3 separate regions of the Homo sapiens genome follow, and all the other regions are linked to region 2. The links come from fine-mapping of genetic effects on gene expression. A gene starts in region 2. Each other region holds a variant in brackets. All regions are shown on one strand. Distances are from middle to middle. Region 1 overlaps LSM6 (LSM6 homolog, U6 small nuclear RNA and mRNA degradation associated). Region 2 holds the start of REELD1 (reeler domain containing 1). Region 3 overlaps LINC01095 (long intergenic non-protein coding RNA 1095).

Region 1 (7,025 bases), 33 kb before region 2:
ATAGAGATTACTTGGTTAGTATTTGTTGAAGTACATGCATGATCCTACTGGTCACTGTATCCATAGTTTGGGCTGATGGGGGCTGGACAGGGATTTTGCTTGGCACTGGCCTTGAATGTCTCTTCCACAGACTTGGGTAGTGTGCTTAGGTACCAGGGACACCAAGTGAGTAAGATATTTTCCCTGTCCCCAAGAAGCTTTAAATTCGCACGGGAGACCAGTCAGCAAATGGAAAAATTACGAAACAGCCTGATAAGGGCCATGACTGAGAGTGGAAAGAGGTGCTCTGAGTGGACTCACTTCGCCTTTGGGAGAGAGGGAGAGAAGTAGCCCCTGCTGCCGAGGAAGGAGGGATTGGTATGAAGCCTTCAAAAGACAGCGAGGAACTCCACTGTGTCCGAAGGGAGGATTTAGAGAGCTGTTCTTCTGCCTATCTGATCGCCTCCTCAGACACTGATCTATTAGTCTAGTGCTGCAATTACTTGGATTGTAATGTTTCCTTGCAATTTTTGCTTTTCAAATTCTTTTCACCCTAAACTGTAAATACGCCAGGAGTAGGTAAAAACTTACAGGTAAACATTGCCAAGAAATAAGGATTTTCATGTCTTCTGCTCAGTGGCATAACTCAAATCACATGAGATAGATTTCTTTGCATCTGTCCATTGTATTTCTCTGAGGCTAATTTACAGCACTTTGTCACGTTAGGTATTTTTTTTCCCCAGTGCTGCTACTCTCCAACTGGATTTCTCACCGCCTCTATTGCGATTCCCCAAGATTTAACCAGAGAATCTTAACATATTCAGAAGGGCAGCTGTACCTGTGAAAGGGCTTGGGCTTTGGGGTCAGCCTTGGCTTTGCTTTCCACCTCACAGGGTTTCTCTGTAAATTGCTTATGAATCTAACTCTGGTAGCACATAGTTGGGTTAATAAAAGTTCTTTTTTTTCTTCATTCTTTTACCAAAAAGAAAAAAATTCCCTGCAGGGCACTTTGCAGATGTTTTCATACTAGACCTCTCAGTAGCTTCTGACAGAAAATATACTGCCTTTGACTTAATAGTCATTTATGAAAATAGGTCATTTAAAACAAGCCTGAGTAGGAGTCAGGGGAGGGAGAGGAGGTATAGAGAGTGATTATGACTTTAATTTTGAAAGGAGAAGTTTTACCAGGGTGACCCTGAAGAAAGGTCTTTTTCCTCTTATGTGTTTATGGTTCAAGAGACTCATCTCTTGCTTCAGAAATTGTCAGAACTGTTTCTTCTGCTTTATCCAATTTAAAAGATGAAAACTTAAAATTACTTGAGCCAAGTGATGGGAAAAATTGTGGTGTCAAGACCAATTTACTCATACAAAATGGATTTATGGGCAAGTCATTAAGTAACAGGGAGTAGCAAGGAAGCCTAATGAAGACTAATGTAAAAGATACGGCTTTCCTAAAGTGATGGATAAAATGTGTTTGAGGCAACCCATATACTCTTTTCCAAATAACCTTAGAAGTATTTTTTTTCCAAGAGGTTTAGTAGAATGTAGATATTCTAGAGAACAGATGAGAAGCTTGTGAGCCCCTCTTGTCATGTGGCTTACAGTATTTTGAGGGAGAAAAGACCCACATAAAGAATACAAAAGAGGGCATAGTGACAGGTTATAGCAAATAAAATCAAATGCCAAACTATGTGATGCCAAAAGTAGGTGAGATGGGCATCTGCACTCTGCTATGGAAAGTAGAGAGTGGAACCCAAGCAAGTTCCTGCTTAAAACCCCTGTTTCCTATCATTGACAACAGTATTTCCCCTTGCCAGTTATTTCCTAGGCTTGTTCAAATAGATTGCTGGCTCCTACCCCAGAACTACTGAGTAGAATCTCCAGCTGATCCTAATGATTCAAGTTTGGGAAACTGACCCAGAGCCTCAACTCTGTGCTCCCTGTGAATGTGGCACAGCTCCCTGCCGCAGAGGCGTCTCCTCCTTGCCTATGTAGATTTTACGTTCTACCCAGACACTTGTTCCGTGCCTTTTCTGACTTCTCTTCTTTCAGCTAGGGGGTGACGCCTTTTCCTTCAAATTCAGCTCAGGTGTTAACTTCCAGAAATTCTTTGATCTGCCAAGCCTGGGGTAAGAGAGTGTTCTCTGCCCTTTTGTGCATAATTCTATCAGAATACACATCACCTTTGTAAAATTCTGCATTTACATGTTTCTTGCCCTCTCTGGAATGTAAACTCTGAGGGCTTAAGGCCTTGTCTTTGTGTTACATTCCCCAACCCTGTGCGCCTGAACTTGACAGGTGCTCCGTGAAAGTTGGAAGTGTTGATTGCCTTCAGGAAGAGATTGATGTTAATTGGAATACAGATAAAGCATAATGGACAAGGCGTTATCTTTGGTGAGCTTAGAAGAACATATCTGTGTTTATAAAAAGGTGTGGAAAGTTAATATTAATAATACTTTTAAAATAACCTATACTGTCAAGCAACTGATAGTCAAGATTTGCATTCTTTTTTCTGACAGTTATTAACTCTTTCCAGCTTTTGCTTTTCAAATGTTTTTAATCTGAAACTGTAAATACTCTATGAGCAGATGAAATTAGTAATAATTAAAGTAGTTAATATCTCCATGAACTAGAATCACATTACAAAGCATTTTAGTGATTTTTAACACAAAATAGCTACTTTTATCTCAGTTTTATACATAATGAAACTGTGGCATAATGGGATTTAGCATCTGTGATAGGAAATGCACCTGACTCATCAGTTGAGTATCAGGCCTTCAGAGTTAATATTCTCTCTAGATGTGTTCAGCCTCAAAACAGCATGTATTCAAAATGTAAATAAGGCGGTTTATAGATGAATGGGAAGATTTGTGTATTTTCACTAAACTCATTAAAGGTACTGAATCTGTTACAGTATTTATTTTGTATTTTTTCACTTTGTACTCAGAACAGTGTAAATAAAATTACTGTGTGATCTGAGTCCTGAATGAAAAGTGGTTGTCCTGAATAGTAGTTGTAATAGTAGTTGTAATTGTAGTTATCTGTTGAGATTGTGGAGCTAATAAAATAAGCTAGAAATTCAGTGGAAAAGTTAAGTTAACATTTGTTGAGCAAAATAATTTATTGCATTTTAAAAACATCTTTCAAACCTTGGGGGCAGTGTAGATTGTCCAAATGATAGCCCAAAATTCAAAGATAATTTCTGAAATTTGTATTTTCTTTTATTTGACTTAGGATGTTGACTTTTCTTGGCTAAATAAAATTATTTTACTTAAATTATGATTGCGTTTGTTTACTCACACTCTTTAAATGAGTTTAAATTCTTCTAGATTTTAAGTTCTTTAAGGCAGAGCCTTTGTGTATGACATGTTTTTGAATTTCCTTGCTCAGTGTGTACATGTACATGTAATTTGTTGAGCCCAGTAACCTAGAGTTCCAGCTTACTACAACTGCTGATCCCGTGTGAATTCACTATGAGAACGTCTCCAAATAATCCTTCTCCACACAAACTCAGATTATTGAGTGGATGGACTTAGAATGAAATAAGCATAGTGGAAGAATGTTTAATGAAAAAATAATGGAAGAATATTTAATGAAAAAATTTCATTGAAAACAAAAGAACAGCTTGAGTTCTTGAAGGGAATCCTTAAAATATTGTATCCATACTAA[C/T]TTTTAAGTCTCAGTGCTATATAGCTGCTGAATAATAGTGATGCTGAATTTGACTGAAACAGAAAAATTAATTTCTGAAATATTTTTACTCAGTTTTTGCTTAACTACAGTTTTATTAACTTACCAACATATTTTGAAAGAGAGCTATTTTATAAGAAAAGATGCGTTTTGAAAGGAGTGATGTGCAGCTTTGCATGTCTGATGCTGTTGATTTGGGTGTGTAATGCTATCTCTTTTTCTGTGTTAGACTCCTGTTATACTTGAGTTTTAAGACTTTTTTCTTCATTATTTAGAGCACATATCTGCTATAGTCCTAATAGAGTAATTAAAAATCTTTGACTGTGTTATTGACTTTCAGAAAGCTGTTTAAGGTTGTGATTAAGAGTATGGGCTGGCTATCCACTTTCTAGCTGTGTGACCTTGAGCAGAGTGTTTAATCTTTCTGTGTCTTCTTCTTCATGTGTAAAATGAGGATAAAAACAATACCTCCCTTTTAGGGTAGAGCAATTTAAATTGATTAATATATATAAAGTTCTTGGAAAAGTGCTGGCATATAGTACACTCAAAATTACCTTTAGATTATAATTCTTTTCAGAGATACCATTTAGGCATCAGTTGTTCATAAATATGTCTGTTCTATATAATACGGACTTTAAAATAGGGCTGATTTGAACTTGAATGTTCCATCACATTTGGGAACAAATTATTTAATCTTTCTGTGCCTTTACTTTTCATCAGCAAAATGAGGGTATTAAGACCTTCTTCCCATGGTTCTTGTAAAGATGAAATGTGATAGTGTTTATAAAGACCTTAGCAGAATGCTTTGCATAAAATAACCAACCACTCACTGAATGGAAGTGGTAATGGTTGTAATGGGTATACTGACTATGTGTCAGGCAGTAATGATAAGTGATTAAGAGCAGGTGCTTTTGTAAACACAGGACTTTCCCTAATGAGACTGTGCCATGGTGTTGTGGGTACTGATAAGATAATGCATGTAGAATGTTTAGCTTAGTATCTGGCTCATAGTAAGTACTGAAAACATGTTAGCTGTCATGTAGTAGCAGTGGAGTAATACGCGTCTTCTCGCATGGTCCTTTGATACTTCATTTTCTGTAAGTATGTTAAGGGCTTTAAGGGTTTTGTTGAATAATCAACTTTGGTCTTTACCTTTTATTGTTCCTTTTCATATTTTGATTTAGGATTGTTAAAATGAGTCTTCGGAAGCAAACCCCTAGTGACTTCTTAAAGCAAATCATCGGACGACCAGTTGTGGTAAAATTAAATTCTGGAGTGGATTATCGAGGTAATATTTTCATGTTTCAACCTCACTGGTATAACTGAATAAGTAAATGTGACTTACTGATATTTATTAACCTCTTAAGTATACCCAATAGGCCAAAAAAGTACTGGTCATCAGTAGTTTTTATGCATATATCTTTTTCTATCTCTGAGATCATTCCTTTTAGAAGGACAACTCTGACAGTATAGCATGTGCTTCTGCCTTTCAGTGTGATTTGTGTGACTTCTGTCTCCTGTCTCTGCTTTGAGATCATATGTGCCTAAATTCCCTGGTAATAGCTAGGTATTCCTAGTGAACTCAGGTATGAACAACACAACTGAAGAACATCTTGGTGCAGCAGCATTTGTTTTTGCAGGAGTATTCAAGATTGGCAAGCAGCTGTTGAGTATCATTTTACAACCTGAATGTCCCACTCATATAACGTATAATGTGTGTGGCAACAGGGTGAGACTCTGTCTCAAAAAAAAAAATGCCTTTCTGTTCTTGGAGAGAATATTATTTTTAAGAGGCTGCAGTGCTTTTGAAATTAACTTTATAGGAAGAATGGTTTTAAATTCCGTTTTTTAAAGTTACTGAATTTCTTATCTTCCAAGCTAAGGTATGTTAAGTTACCTGAAATATTTGGCAGGTGTAACTATAACTGATTCATTAGCAGAGGGACGTGGTCTCTTGGGTTGCTATAACAGAATACCACAGACTGGGTCATTTTTATTTTCATTTTTTGTATTTTTTTTATTATTTATTTCAGTAGTTTTTGGGGGTACAGGTGGTTTTTTTGGTTACATAGATACGTTCTTTAGTGGTGGTTTCTGAGATTTTGGTGCACCCGTCACCTGAGCACTGTACTGGGTAATTTTCTTTTTTTTTTTTTTTTTTTTGAGACGGAGTCTCGCTCTGTCACCCAGGCTGGAGTGCAGCGGCGCGATCTCGGCTCACTGCAAGCTCCGCCTCTAGACTGGGTAATTTTCAAAAACAGAAGTTTATTTTCTCACAGTTCTGGTGGCTAGGAAATCCAAGATCAAGGTGCCAGCAGGTTCAGTTGTCTGGTGAGGGCTACGTCCTCCAGAGAGGAGGAATGCTGAGTCCTCACGTGGCAGAAGGCAGAGGGCAAACCAGCACACTGCGTGAAGACTTTTTTTTAATGCAGGCCTTCATCCCATTAATGGGCAAGTCCCCATGGTCTGCTTGCTTCTTAAAGGCCCCCACCTCTTAATACTCTCCTATTGCCAAACACCTGAATTTTGGAGGGGACACATTCAAACCATAGCACAGGTTTTTGTGGCCTTTTTTTGGTCTCTTTTCTGAATAATTAATAGTCATAGTAATCTCTTGAGCTTTTTCCTTTGAAATCTCTATTGATTATCCCCACCTAGTAGAGGAGGAGCTAGGACTCAAGTTCAGGCTCGGCTCATAAGCCTTGTTAAGAAACCACTCTGGTGATTATGTACTCCTTTAGCTTCTTGACATTAATAACGTATCTCCAGTTTAATTTTATTTTTATAGTAAAATTAATGGATTCATACGGAATACTGAGGTAGTATAATGTCTCCGTGTACTGCCTCTCACCTGCGAACTTTTGATGATGGGCCCATAGGAAGTAATAGACTTCTAGGGGTTTTAATCTGTTTGACAGTTGATTAAAGTGAGGACATTGTGTTCAATGTCTTCTCAGTACCCACTTTATTGAAGAGATGAACCAGCCTGACCTTTTTTCTCTGTACTCTTTAGGGAAAATTTTTCTATTTATAAAGGCAATACATGTTTTAGTTTTGTTTTAATTTTAGAAATGTAAAAGGAAATAATACAGAAAAGTATATAGAAGAAAGCCAAGGATCCCCAATGCTACTATCCAGAGACAGTTTACCAATTTTGACCTCTATATTAGCATAATTTGACATAAATGGAGTCAACTACATGCAACCTGATTTTTTTTTTAAACGTTGAAACAGTACATTTAGTTTTGTAATAATATAGAGGGTTTAATGGCTGCATAGGAATCTCTTGTGTGGCTGTACCATGGTTTTGCTTTTACTGTTAACCAATTTCCTATTAATGGACATTTAGGTGTTGACCA
Region 2 (7,025 bases):
CCAGCCAAATTGCTAGTGTGAAATGACCTCAAGCAGATTCCCAAAATAAAAGCAACAAACAAACAAAACACAGTATTTTCTTGCTTTCCGGGTGCACACAGCTGGGTCTCCTTCATGTGGGTGGGGATTGGAGGCCAACTCACTGCTGTCTCTCGGGCTTCGGGCTTAGCGCATGATCTGGCTCAGAGCCACACTCTCTCACCGCCTCCTCTCCGTGGTGGGCACCAACCCTCTCTGTGGCTCAGCCAGCTTTCTCTTTCCCCAGACAAAACAGGTACAGAGCCCTTCCTTTGTCTCAAACCCCATACTAAGTACCAACTCCTTATTATTTATTACCTCACTGAAACTTCACCAGCACTTCGGGATGCAGGTACAGGAACTGGTAGTTATCTTCATCTTGTAGATTATGTTACAAAGCTATTCTATAGCAAAACTGTAGGGAAAAACCTTATCTATCACTTCCTGAATGCTGTGGGAACTTTTGGCAAGTTACAGAAACACTGTGACTCAGTTTCCTTATCCATAAAATGAGATAACAATAGTGCAGACCTCATTGTGTTGCTGTATCGATGAGGTAATTTGCCAACTAGCTGACTAGAATAGTGTGTGGTACTGTGCAGGCATTATATAAATATGCTGTTATGTTTAATTACTATCCTGTCCCCTCAATGCCTCTTACACATCCTGCACGTGGTACAATACGGCCTCAGGTCTGACCCCACACCATGACCTATGGCTCAACCACCTTCCTTTGTACAGACCTGCGCTGATAAATATGGTAGCAGCTTACCACATGTGGCTCCGGAGCACTTGAGATGTGTCTAGTCTGAATTGAGACGTGCTGTAAGTGTAAAATACCACTGGATATCAAAGACTTACTGTGAAAAAAAGAATGCAAAATATCTCACTAATGATATTTTATATGCTGATTGCATGTGAAATGTTTTCAATATATTGAATTGACTAAATTTATTATTAAAACAAATGTCTTTTGTTCCTTTTCACGTTTTTTAAAAATAAGGAGAGTCCAATTTTTTTGTTTGTTTGTTTTTGAGACAGGGTCTCACTCTGTCGCCCAGGCTGGAGTGCAATGGCAAGATCTCAGCTCACTGCAACCTCCACCTCCCAGGTTCAAGCAATTTTCCTGCCTTAGCCTCCAGAGTAGCTGGAATTACAGGCACGTGCCACCATCCCTGGCTAATTTTTGTATTTTTTGGTAGAGATGGGGTTTCAACATGTTGGCCAGGCTGGTCTTGGACTCCTGACCTCAGGTGATCTGCCTGTCTTGGCCTCCCAAAGTGCTGGGATTACAGGCGTGAGCCCCTGCGTCCGGCCTAGAAAATTTTAAATTACATATGTGGCTTGCATTCTATTTCTATTGGCCAGCACTCGTATAGAGTAGCCTTGTATGTGTTCTTGGTCAGATTCCCAGGGAGAGTTTCTGTCTCAGCCCTGAGTCAGCAGGGCCCTCGCCTGTGATGAATGCCCCCCTGGTACAATCAGCTTTGTCGGGAGAGTGGCATAAGATGCGCTGCCGGCTCAGCAGAGGCTGTGGGTGTGGCAGGCAGGATAAGGCCATGTCTAAGATATGGTGTCCTCCTGATTTTCAACAAGAAATATTACATGAGCAAATGGCAGGATTATTTATTGAGCCATGCAGGTGCGCTCTCTCTACCTTTGCACTCCTCTCCTCATTCTAATTGGTAGTTGGGCCTTTTGAGAATCCGTATATCCAGGGAGTTTGTGTTTCAGGGGCAAAGCTGAGGTGTTGGAGATTACCACTCTACCTGTGGTAGGTGGATTATGCCAGGTGGCCCAGGGTAATGGGGTGAGAGTAAAAAAAAAAAGGAGAGGAGGGACACTTTTGTCTCTAAGACTGGGATAGGAGCAGAGTGGAGTGGAGAAGAGGTTAGCCACTCTCCTGCTAGGGGCAGAGATCTGTGTCAGGACCCAGTGGAGGGGGTGGGAAGAACCCAGGCCACAGCCTTGCTGAAGACCTGAGCCCCTTTTTGGCATAGAAGCCTTCCAACTAACAGTCTTCAAGTGACCACATGAGCTCTGAAAACTATCATAACAGCAGCCATGGAAGGAATGTATCCTAATTTTCTAGACCTCCCAGAATTTCTCATGACTCAGTGGGAGATTGAGATTGCCTCCAATCCTAGTGGGATAGAAGCTTAGAGAAACCAAATTGAATTTGTTTGCTTTTGTTCTGTGTGTGGGGAATACTGGTATCCTAGGCCAAGGAAGCCCAATTTCCCTTGGTGTTTATAGGATAGATAGTCTCATTTACACTTGCAACAAAAGGCTTAGCAACCTGGTCCCTAAGCCAGTGCCTTGCCTATTCAGTCACTCATAGCTTTAGTTTTTTCTGAGTGGAGACAAGGCCTAACAGTCAGAACATTGCTCTCTCTGCAGCCCCCTACTCCACATCACCCAGGACTATCAATCCTAGGATTCTCTCTTGGACGCCTTGCATTCAAACAGCCACCAAATCCTACCTCCACCTGATCTCCTGATCTCCCAAATCCATTCCTCTCTCTTTTTCTTCATTGTTAATGTTGCAAGCTTCTAGGTGATGCTGGTGTTGCACTCTAGGGACCACACATTGAGGAACACTGATCTATAGGCTCTCTGGTATTATCAGGTGTCTCAGCAGATTCTTAGATGAATGAAAATGTGAACTCCAGCTTTAGTGCAATTGATACGGGAGGTGCCTATGCCACGTGTTATTTTTTTGTACCAAACGTTGCTCTTGGGCTAACGTATCAATTCTATTTCACCAAGAGTAACTTCAGTCCACACTGACTCAAGAAGCCAAGAATGCTGAGATGCATTTCATTCAAACATTCTCCCCTTTGCAGGGAGATCAAGATGGAGGCATCCAGCTTCTGCCAAGGATGTCAGTGCCAGTCCTGTGCAAAACCAGTTCCGGTTCTTTCTAGTTCTTCACGCAGGCTTGAACAATGATGTGACTGTAAACCGTGTGTGTGTGTGTGTGTGTGTGTGTGTGTGTATGTGTGTGCTAATACGATTTAGGTTGGATTTGGACACTGAGGAACAGTTCCTGGAGATGCTGAGGATTAGTGGTAGCAGCTGTTATTCTCCCCATTAGAGGAAAAACTGAAAGGAGAAGAAAATACTTATGTTTAAGGGATGTGTTTGCAACTCTGCGGGAGGAAGCCATTCTATCAAGCCTGAAGAAAACTGTGTTCCTAGGTAAGTGGATGTTTTTATTTATTTATTTTTGTAGAGACAAGGTCTCCCTGTGATGCGCAGGCTGGTTTTGAACTTCTGGCTTCAAGTGATCTTCCTGCCTCGGCCTCCCAAAGTGCTGGGATTACGGGTGTGAGCCACCATGCTCAGCTCCAAGTGGATAGTTTTCAGGGTTCAGGTAGACAAGATGCTAGTGGGAAAGAAGACACAGTGAAACCTAAGGCAGGAGGGTGGGAGGTGGGGCTGTGGCCGTAGTCTGTGAGTCCAGGCACTCACTCCCCTTCCCTTGTAGGCAACTGTGTCTGATCTGCCTTTGGAAAGACCACTTGCCATCAGCAAGGACTTGAGGAGCATTTTCATTTCATTTCTTTCTTTTCTTTTAAGAGACAGGGTCTTGCTCTGTACCCAGGCTGGAGTGTAGTGATGTGATCATAACTCACTGCAGCCTCGACCTCCTGGATTCAAGTGATCCTCCTGCCTCAGCCTCCTGAGCAACTGGAACTATAGGTGCGCACCACCATGCCCAGCATTCAAGGGGCATTTTGTATGTGGCCCTTATGAAAGAAAATGAGAAGAACCCTGAGCCCCCTTGACTGAGAATGTGCTTTTACACAGTTCATCTTCATTATCTCCTAATGTGTCTGAGAAGCTGTAGCCATGGTTCCTTGTAGTATGGAGATGTGTGACTTTGGTGCTTCATAGAAAACAAACTTAGAAAAGAAAGGCATTGTCTGAAGGACTCTTATGTCTAAGAAATTTGAGGTATAGATCATATTCCTGTCTTCTTTTAGCTTGTGAATGTAAAAGGTGGTGTTGTGTGAAGAGACAATGGGAGTGGAGGACACTTGATTATTTGGTTTATGGATTATTTCCTTAGTCTATTGTTCTGATAGCTAGTTTTACTACATTTTCAGGATTTTATTTTCACCTTTTAAAACCAGCTGACTACAGGGGAGGGCATTTTTTTTTTTTTTTTTTTGCCTTGCATTGTTCCTTAGGTCAAAAAATTAGCCAAACTTCTAAAATGCCTGTGTGCAGGACTATAAAAAAAAAAACAGAACTTTTTTTTTTTTTTTTGAGATAGAGTCTCGCTCTTTTGCCCAGGCTGGAGTGCAATGGCATGATCTCAGCTCACTGCAACCTTGGTCTCCCAGGTTCAAGCAATTCTCCTGCCTCAGCCTCCCGAGTAGCTGGGACTATAGGCACATGCCACCACACCCAGCTAATTTTTTGTATTTTAGTAAAGACAGGGTTTCACCGTATTGCCCAGGCTGGTCTTGAACTCCTGTGCTCACGCAATCCACCTGCCTCGGCCTCCCAAAGTGCTAGGATTACAGGCGTGAGCCACCGCACCTGGCCTAAAACAGAACTGTTAAAAAATGCCTGTGATAATCCTAAATATTTATGTAGGCAGATTTTCATCTGCCTTGTTTGCTATCTCTCATTTTATTTTTGTCATCTTCTTTTACATTGCCAAATTTTAATTCTTCCTCTTGATGGGAATTAGAGGTAGTAAACAAAAATAAAATTTACTCTATAAATGCTATTTTATTCAATCATTGTATTCTATTCCTGAGCCAAAATTGTTATCAGTATGTTTAAGAAGTTATAGAATAAATTGAGTATTTCTTTCTCTGCTCATCTTCTTTACTAAAAGTAGTGAAATAGCTAAAAACAGCCAAAGAAAGGGCAAAGAGATATCAAAGCATTGCCAGCTTAACAGTCACTTCTAAATAATTGATAGTTGGTAGATGTTTTGTAGCACTTAACTTGGTAATTTTCAATTGCAACAGAGATAAGATGCTCAGCCAAGCCATCCCATGCCATGCTGCCTGACCATGGTGGTGTATTGAGTGTCTACTTCAGATAATGTATCAGAGGCCACACCGCCTTTGGGTACCAGTCAGCTTGCAAGGAGCTCACGCTAGGATACAAACATTTTCTGGTTTTATTTCTTTGACTCAATAATTAAAGCCTCTCTTTTGAACAACAACAAAAAAAGCAGTCTGGTCTTATGAGAAAATTACAAGAACAGAAGTTTTTAAAAAGGTGTTTGGAAATGAAACACTTCCTATAGCCTGGCATTTCCTTTTGATCTTGGCCTTGAACATTAGCAATCCTGGGAGGCTGCACTAAAAGCATCTCAGGTACAGAGGCAGTGTGGGGTTCAGGTTAGTCACATCCCGAGAAGACTTTATGTCGTTTTCCTAAATAACGTCTGGACTGAAGCTGCTGTTTGTCATGATACAGGAGAGGGCAGGATGAGGATGCAGGCTGCCCTCGTGGGCTGGGCTTGTACCACCCTCTGCCTGGCTTCCTGCTCATCTGCCTTTTCCCATGGTGCCAGCACGGTGGCCTGTGATGACATGCAGCCCAAGCACATCCAAGCCCAGCCTCAGCACCAGGACAGCCACCACATCACCATCCACACCCACAGGACTTCCTATGCACCAGGTGACAAGATTCCAGGTATGTACCAGAGAGGCTTAGAGAGACTCCGAGGAGCCCCAGAGCCCCCATGGACCTTCCAGTTTGTGTTTGTCCCAGTCAGAAGCTTCCTGGACTAAATTTGGCTTAATCCCTTTTTTTTGTTTTTTGTAGAGATGGAGTCTCACTGTGTTGCCCTGGCTGGTCTGAAACTCCTGGGCTTAAGTGATCCTCCCACCTCAGGCTCCCAAGAAGCTGGGACTACAGGCACATGCCACTGTGCCCTGCTAATTTTTTGTATTTTTTTTAGAGACAGGGTCTTTGTATGTTGCCCAGTCTGGTCTCGAGCTCCTGGGCTCAAGTGAACCTCCTGATTCAGCCTCCAAAAGTGCTGGGATTACAGGCACAAGCTACCATGCCCAGCCTGGCTTAATCTTAAGAAGCAATTATCAGGTTAAAAATAAGCATAAAATATTTGTGTCATAAAAACCACATGATAACTAATCTCTGTATTAATTGTGATCTGTATAAGAAGACACAAATATTATTATAGATAATTATTTTGTCCTTACCATAAGATATAAATGTATCTTATTACGGACACAAATATAGTTACTCTGAACAACCTTCATGTATCATCTATGTGTGTGAAATACACTTTTTTCTCATTATTTAAAACTAAAATTCATCCATCAACAGACACTTTGGTGAGATGATGGATATTTTAATTTGCTTGACTATAGTAACCATTTCACTATGTGTAAGTATATCAAAACATCATGTTGTATACTTTAAATATATACAATTTGACATTTTTTAAATTAAAATATTGGGGGATGAAAAAATCATTTCCTGTTCTTTTAGTTTAGGTGCCTATAAAAGCAGGGAAAGAACGTGAGCGCAGGTGGTTTATGTGAGAGATCATCCCAGGAAACACAGGTGAGGAAGAGGGAAAGGGAGCTGGGCAAGAGGAGATGCCAGTCAAGGGCGTGCAACTGAGCAGGTCTCTGCTGTGGGCAACCGAGGTGCATTCCAGTGGGGACCCTCTGAGAAGCCATGTGAAACACCTCTGAATCATCTCTCAGGAAGATGCAGGGGCAGGGAACTTACCAGTTTCGGGTTGCCCCCACCAGGGGTGTTTCTACCTCCATGCCCCGCCCCCACTCCCCAAACTCACACACACTCTTCAGAGTCCACAGCTTACCTTGGACCAAGCTTGGAAGTGGCAGTGAGGGACAGCAGAGAAGGAAGCTACAGATACTTCAGATGCCACGAAGTGTAGGCAGAGAACTATGCACCCAAGGTGAGCTCCAACACATCAGCAACTTTTGCCCTAAACCCCTCTTGATTTTTGCTGATTCTTTTGATAGGAACTAAAGGTG
Region 3 (7,025 bases), 100 kb before region 2:
AGTTCTAATATTGACCTATGGCTTCAATTTGGCAGCTCAAGTCCACACATTTGCCCTGAGCCCCTGCTAAGTAGCAAGTGTTGTGGAAGCAAAGCATGCTGCCCAAGGGTGCACAGTCTAGGAGGAAGGGGCCGACAGGACTGTGCCCACACTTTTCACTGGGTGGTAAGTGCTGTGATCAGCTTCTATGCTGGATGCTATGGGGGCTGGGAGAAGGCCACCTGACAGCCTACAGGGACAGGGAAGACTTCCAGGCAGAGGTGAAAGCTTCACTTAGACTTGAAGCAGGTATTAGGCTGATGAAGAAAGTAAGCCAAACAAAACAAAACAAAGCAGAACAAAACTCCGAGAAAATTAGACTAAGAAATGTTTTAATTCCTTCCATAAACTTTGAAAATAGGCAGGCCTAGGCTTGAATCCTCGTTTTGCTATTCACTAGCGATGTGACTTTGGGCAAGTTACTTAAACTCTCTGAACTTCAATGTAGTCATCTCTGGGACAGGGTCCCTATCTTATTGTGTTGTTCTGAAAATTAAAGGAACAATGTATGATCACCTCATAACCCAGTGTCTCCCACAGGCTTATTTTGAATATCTGTGGTATTAAAACACTCATACTAAAACATAATAAAAGAGGAAGTAATGATTTGTTGAATTTAGAGGAAGAAATAATGACAAGGAAAGCCAAAAGTAGCACAACAAGCTCTGTATTTAGGCTCATATATCCATTCTTGCCAGAGCCGCTAAGTCAGAGCTGGGGTGGAGAACAACTGGCCAAAGTCCATTACATTCCATCTAATGATAGGTCTGTTGGCAGGTGGGGGGAGGCTATCAGCAACTCACCTTGTCCAGTACCCTCCTGTTATAATACAAAGCTCCAGCTCAAACTGAAAACTTAAAGTACAATCAGCCAGATCCACCTTCTAATGACTATGATGTTTAAAGCATCCACAAAAGTGAAATTCAAATTATTGATATGTTTTAGTAGCACCATCCGTAATTTCACCTAAACATAAAGAAGAAGCAAAACAGGAGCAGGAAAGTCAGTCTATGATAAAAGCTCCCATTTATCACAGGCCTCCTATGAGTTAAGTACTGTTTATTTGCTATTTCTAACGCATATTGCAACTTACAAGGCAGTCCTGTTCTCCTTCACAAATGAAGCATCCACAGCACAATTGGTGACTTCACAAAGGTCCCATGGCTCCTAGGTGGGAAGCCGCCAGAAGGCAGATCTGATTCTAAAGCTGCTGTCTGCATGCCAGGCTAGTACAGCTCTCAATCTGGGATCAGGAAAGAGAGGTACCACATGTGGTCAAGGAGCTCCCACATCCCCAGGAGTCCAAGGGTTGCCATTCTTCCTCCTTCTGTCTCTGTGATGTCACCACTACAATGTTGTCATATTGTGAACTGTTCTGGTAAGTTACAAATTTTTCCACAGAAAAGAAGAGAAAGGGCTACCCAAAAAATGGGAGAGGAAAAACTAATCGTAAGTCTTCAGAGCTAAGTGAAGTTAAGAACCTGACCTTGGATGGGGGTATCCTAACCCAGCGGTGGCCTTAGTCACGTCATACTTCTGCTTCGCAACTGATCCCAGATACAGACACAGTCTAATTGAAAAGAAGGAGTTATCTGGTTGTGAGGTGTATTAACTTCTTAGGTGAAGTAAAATGCTTTGAAACAAGGTGAATTTTAAAAATCAGATATCTTGATTCAAATCCGGTCTTTGCCACTTAATAACTGTGTGATTAAGCCTCATCTACTTATCTTCTAAATGAAATTAATAGTATTTACTTCACTTTTCTCATCTCTAAAATGGTGATAATAATACCTATCCTCCTAGCATGATGGTAAGGATGAAGTGAGAATAAAAGCTAGCATGTAGAAAATAGTAACCGAAGTTACCTATTGATAATTTTCTGTGATTATCTTAATTAGCTACAGTATAGCATTCTTACATGAAGTACCTGGATGTGGTAAATAATCAATAAACAGCAGCTATTATTATTAACAGGGCACATTTTTGTATTGGTGCAGGTCTGCTGGTGGAAATAAATGAAAGGAGGAGAAATCCTGTGTGTGACAGCACAAATGCAAAAATAAAACCAAAAACAACAATAAGAAAGCAGAAGTGGAAGGAAAAGAATCTTAGCTTGAGTCAACCAACTTGTTACCAGAATTCAGTTATTAAAAATCTCTATAGTGTAAATTTAGCCTTTAGAATTTAATTTTTTTAACTTTCTCTTTTGTTTTTACCAAAGTCCACTTTGAAGAGTCCAGTCTTCACTGGACCAAGGAAGAAAGGAAAATAAATTTAAATTTTTATGTATTTAGTTAGTTTTGCTTTGTAAAAGAGAAGAATCCAGCTCAGGTTCTTAACTCCACTCACCTCTAAAGAATTCCCAGTCATATTTCCCTCTCCCTTTTTGGGTGATGCTTTGTCTATGTCTATGGTAGAGGAGAAATGGGGAAGAGACACTGCAGGGGTGATGAGGACAGAATTTAGAGCACTGTAGAGAGAGGGGAGATTCTGGGGAGAGAGTGAGAGGGTCCTTGTGCAGTGATCCTTCTCCTTGGAATGGTTTGTCCCTAAAAGCTACTCTGCTTCTTTCCTGTCAGGGATGTTAGCAGAGCTCAAATCCTTATGAACCCAAACTCCCAAGCCACTGGATCCGGTGAGATGGCTGGAACTCAGCAGGGTCAGCATGAGGAACACCGCGAGGACTGCTGAAACACCACATTCCCATGGCTGCCGCAGGACAGCGGGGTGGCTGGAAGGCACAGTGTCTGTGAAACTGTGGTCCTCGGCAAGGGGTGTGACCTCATGGTGGGTCGCCTGACCTATGAGCAGAGATGGAAGGAAGAATGCCAATTTGGAGGCAGATGTGGGAAGTAGGAGTGCTGTGGCAACACGGTGTGGAAATAGGGAGTTCTCTTCAGGCGTGATGCTCACAGTTTACATAAATCTATTGATCTATGTATTTACCTGCCTACCTCTATGTGTGCGTTTGTCTGGGTGTGGGGTGGAGCAGTGTGAGGTGGGTTCAGGAACCGTGTTTGTGAGGGCTGTCTGGGGAGACAGAACCAATAGGAGCTATATCTGTACTGATATTGGTATCTCTACTGATATAGATAGATGAGAGGGGATGTATTAGGGGAATTGGCTCACACGACCTTGGTGACTGAGAAGTCCCACCACAGTCCATCTGCAAGCTGGAGACCCTGGGACGCAGGTAGTGTGGCTTCACAGCAAGTTCAAAGACCTCAGAATCAAGGGAGCGTATCTGCCCTAAGGATGAGATCGGGAAAAAGCCTGCAAGCATGTGTTTGAAAGGAGGTGAGAGAGGAAGATCAAGAAGGGTTTTCCCAAGTTACGGTTGCAACGCAAGAAAGGGAAAGGTGAGAAGAGGGACCCGAGCCCAGGCCTTGGGAGGAAGAGGAGGAAGAAGAGGGGTGTGGGCCCGACCCCGAGAGCAGACCAGGGCTGCGGTCAGAGCTGGTCGCCAGATGAGGACGCCTGGGCAGCTGGCCTGTGCCTGAGCAGAGGTGGCTGAGGTCCAGGAGGCAGAGAAGAAGAAATGGAGCCTCGCACCGCTGCTCCTAGCTTGCCCAGAGGGAGAAGGGTGATGGGGCTGTTCCTATGCACTCAGGACCGTGGCTCTTGAACTTTATGTGTCGGGAAGGAGGCAAGGGCTGAACTGGAGAGTGGGCCATTCATTTAGTTCCAGCGTCCCAGGAAATGCTCTTTTCCCCGCGGGAGCCTCTGCCTGCAGCTGTAATGACCTTGGACTAGAAGGTCAAACTCCAAAGGCTTGAAACCGCACCTGCAGCAGGACTGGCCACCTACGTTGTGGGGTATCTTTAAAATAAAATGCTGCACTGTCCTGCAACTGTCAGTCTGAAGCAGAAGTCCTGAGTGCCCAGGGGCAACTGGTGTAAGTCCTGGAGTTTGAAGGTCATAGAGCCTGGAGTCCAACCGCAGGAGGAGAAGAGTGTCCCTGCTCCAGGAGAGAGAGAGAGA[A/G]AAAAAAAAATCTCTTTTTGTGTATGTGCTGTTGTTGCCTTTTTTGTTCTTATCTGTGCCCCCAGCCATTTGGATGATGCCCCCACATTGAGGACAGGTCTTCCCCACTCAGTTTACTGACACACACTCCAGTCTCCTCTGGAAACCATCTCACAGACACACCCAGAAAGAATGCTTTACTAGTTCTCTAAGTATTCCTTAATCCAGTCAAGTTGGCACCTGAAATTAACCATCCTAGGGACACTGCTATTTTTAAATCTACCTAGAATTTGCACCTCTGACTCTAGAGATTGAGGCAGAATTCATTTTCAGGGAGACTATCCTTTTGATTTGAAAAACACCGATATAAGCTCTTTAGTTAAACAAAGATAGGGCCATGCTTCTATTCTGGAAGAAACAGATTAAGATGGAGCAAAGCTAAGCTGCTCATCAGAGATTTTTTTTTTCTCTAATATATTTTATGGCTTCCTCAGGAAAGAAGCAGGCCAGGGAAGAGTGGAGATGGGCAGAGTGGTGATAAAACAGGGGGCTCATGGAGAGGAGGAGAAATGGACTTTAGCACCACAGTGGCAGGCAGGAGCTTAAGAGCAGAGTTTAATTCCAAGGGATTCCTTCGATGGGGTTATGACCAATCTGCTTTAGGAGCAGTGATACAGAATTTTCTATCTCCCTTTTGGTGGTGCTGTGGTTTGGATGTTTGTACCCCAAAAAACTTCATGTTGAAATTTGATCCCAGTGTTGGAGGTGGGACTTTATGAGAGGGGTTTGGGTCATGGAGGAAGATCCCATATGAACTGATTAATACTCTCCCTCAGGGGTGAGTGAGTTCTCATCTCATTAGTTCCCGATCCAGCTGGTTGTTACAAAGAGCCCGGCACCCTCACCTCTCTTTTGCTTCCTTTCCATATGATCTCTGCATACACTAGCTTCCTTCCTCTCGTGTCGTGAGTGGAAGCAGCCCAAGGTCCTAATGGCAGATGCCTAATCCTGAACCTTCCAGCCCATCAGAATAGTAAGCCAAATAAATCTTTTTTCTCTGTAAGTTACCCAGCCTCAGGCATTTCTTGATAACAACGCAAAATGGACTAAGGCATGTGGTATGACTCCTCATGTTATTCTCAAACCCTCAGTAAAGTTTTGTCACTCTCTATGGCTGGTGTCAGCCATGTTGGAATAAAGAGAGGAGCTGGTGTCCACAGGGGGCAACCGATTAACAGAGAGATAAGGTTGGGAGATGACAAGAGGAAGCACGGAGCTGGTGTAAGCATTCCCTGACAAATCTTCAGAAGTTCTTGCAAAAGAAGACTACATGTTTCTTGTTCACACAGGATGGGATTCACAATATTTGAGGGAGGGATATTGTCATAGACATTGGGGGTACCTGGTAGCACATGAACCCACTTTTTATGTTTAGGGATGTCCTCACTGTATGAGTCTCCATGAGGGTTAGAGACCTCCACTATGGAGGTCAAATAGGCCAGAGACTTGTTTTTCCAGCCTCCTGCCCTGGAGAGGGGGCATGTGACCTAGGCTTGGCCAGTCAGGCACCACCCCAGGACTTTGCATTGGAAGCTAGTGAACCGATGAAGAGGAGTGGTAGAGAGTCTATTCTGAGGAGTGGGGTGGTGGGGTAGAAGGCAGCTAAAGCCTCCAGTTTCCTGGGGCACAAGAGAGAGTAGGATTGGTAGCATTATTTAGTTGAGAACATCCAAGAAGCAGATGCCAAGATGGGATTCGAGATTTATTAGGGAAAGAAATTCATTAGGGAAAATGGCTCTGGAGGATAAAGAGAAAGGGAGTGGGAGTTGGAGAGAGCCATTAGATTGGGAGACAGGTCTAACAACTGTAAAAGGATAATGAGAAACAAAGAATGGTGGGAAGAGCCTCAGAGTGCAGCAGAATTCTGAGACAATCTTGGCTTGGCCAATGGAGAGTCTCCAGGCAAAAGCTGCTGTGTTCATTTTTCTATTGCTGCTGTAACAGGTTACCTGACCCTTTGAAGCTGAAACCAACACAATGATCATGTTGTATTGTATATCTGTAATTTGCTAAGAGGGTAGATCCCAAGTGTCTTTACCATACCAAGAAATAAAAATAAAAAATAAAAAAGAATGGTAACTATGTGAGGTGATGGAAATGTTAATTAGCTTGATTGTGGTGAGGAACACAAATTTATTATCTTACAATTCTGGAGGTCAGAAGTCTGACATTAGTGCTAAAATCAAGGAACTGACAGGATTGCTTCCTCTGAGAGCTTCAGGAGAGCTGGGGCCTGCCCTTTTCAGCTTCTAGTGACTGCCAGAATTCCTTGGCCTGTGGCTGCATCACTTCAATCTCTGCTTCGGTCATCACCTCTCCTACTTCTCCCTCTGATCGCCTGCATCCCTCTTATAAGGACCCTTGTGGTTACACTGAGCCCTAAGTAATCCGGGATACTCTTCCAAGATTACATGTGCAAAGTCCCCTTTGCCCTATAAAGTAACATTCACTGGTTTCCTCTGCTGGTGGCAAGTGCAAGCTCTGATGTCCAGTGTCTAGTGCTATTAGCAGCAGTGCCCATTGCTCATGTTCTTGTGGCATGATTTGTACTTGGGTTCTAGATACCTAGAGTCTCTCTTCTTCTACCTGTTTTCTGAACCTTCTCAAAATTTCCTGGTGTTTCTGTGAGCTCCTTGGTCATCTTTTAATAAACTTCTTTTCTACTTAACTCAATCAGAGTCAGTGTGGCTGATCATTGTTAGGTTTGGTGAAAACAGGAGGCTCTGTTCCTAAAAGGAAAAGGGGAAATAATTGCTCTAATTTTAGAGACTAAATTTTCCAACCTTCCTTGTGGCCAGGCATGGCCATGTGACTAAATTCTCATCAGGGAAATGTGAGCAGAAGTGATGTGTCTAACCTCCATGTCACTTCTTCAAAAGGAACTCCTATGCACAATCCTTCCTTCTTTTCTCCCCTCTTCTGGGTTCAGTATGTACATGGTATTGGGGAGTCAGCTTGCTTCAGTG

Evidence for each region. PIP is the estimated chance that this variant, and not a neighbour inherited with it, causes the effect. A credible set is the group of variants that fine-mapping cannot tell apart.
Region 1: its variant is the best candidate, but not a certain one, in a credible set for the expression of REELD1 in whole blood (INTERVAL, PIP 0.81).
Region 3: its variant is the best candidate, but not a certain one, in a credible set for the expression of REELD1 in whole blood (TOPMed, PIP 0.86).

The regions. Positions count from the first base shown.
Region 1 is chr4:146,178,062-146,185,086 of GRCh38, forward strand. It overlaps LSM6 (LSM6 homolog, U6 small nuclear RNA and mRNA degradation associated), which reads left to right. Exons shown (of 4, transcript NM_007080.3): 2 at 4,851-4,954. The coding sequence starts at 4,861. Among named protein-coding and RNA genes, the nearest start is that of LSM6, 5.9 kb to the left of the region's middle. The variant C/T (reference allele first, on the strand shown) is at 3,649.
Region 2 is chr4:146,211,476-146,218,500 of GRCh38, forward strand. REELD1 (reeler domain containing 1) reads left to right here and starts at 3,063. Exons shown (of 8, transcript NM_001354631.1): 1 at 3,063-3,219; 2 at 3,601-3,723; 3 at 5,467-5,685. The coding sequence starts at 5,478.
Region 3 is chr4:146,110,469-146,117,493 of GRCh38, forward strand. LINC01095 (long intergenic non-protein coding RNA 1095) reads right to left here. Exons shown (of 6, transcript NR_038331.1): 2 at 3,824-3,997; 3 at 3,174-3,288; 4 at 1,133-1,282; 5 at 843-1,005. Among named protein-coding and RNA genes, the nearest start is that of LINC01095, 7.9 kb to the right of the region's middle. The variant A/G (reference allele first, on the strand shown) is at 4,021.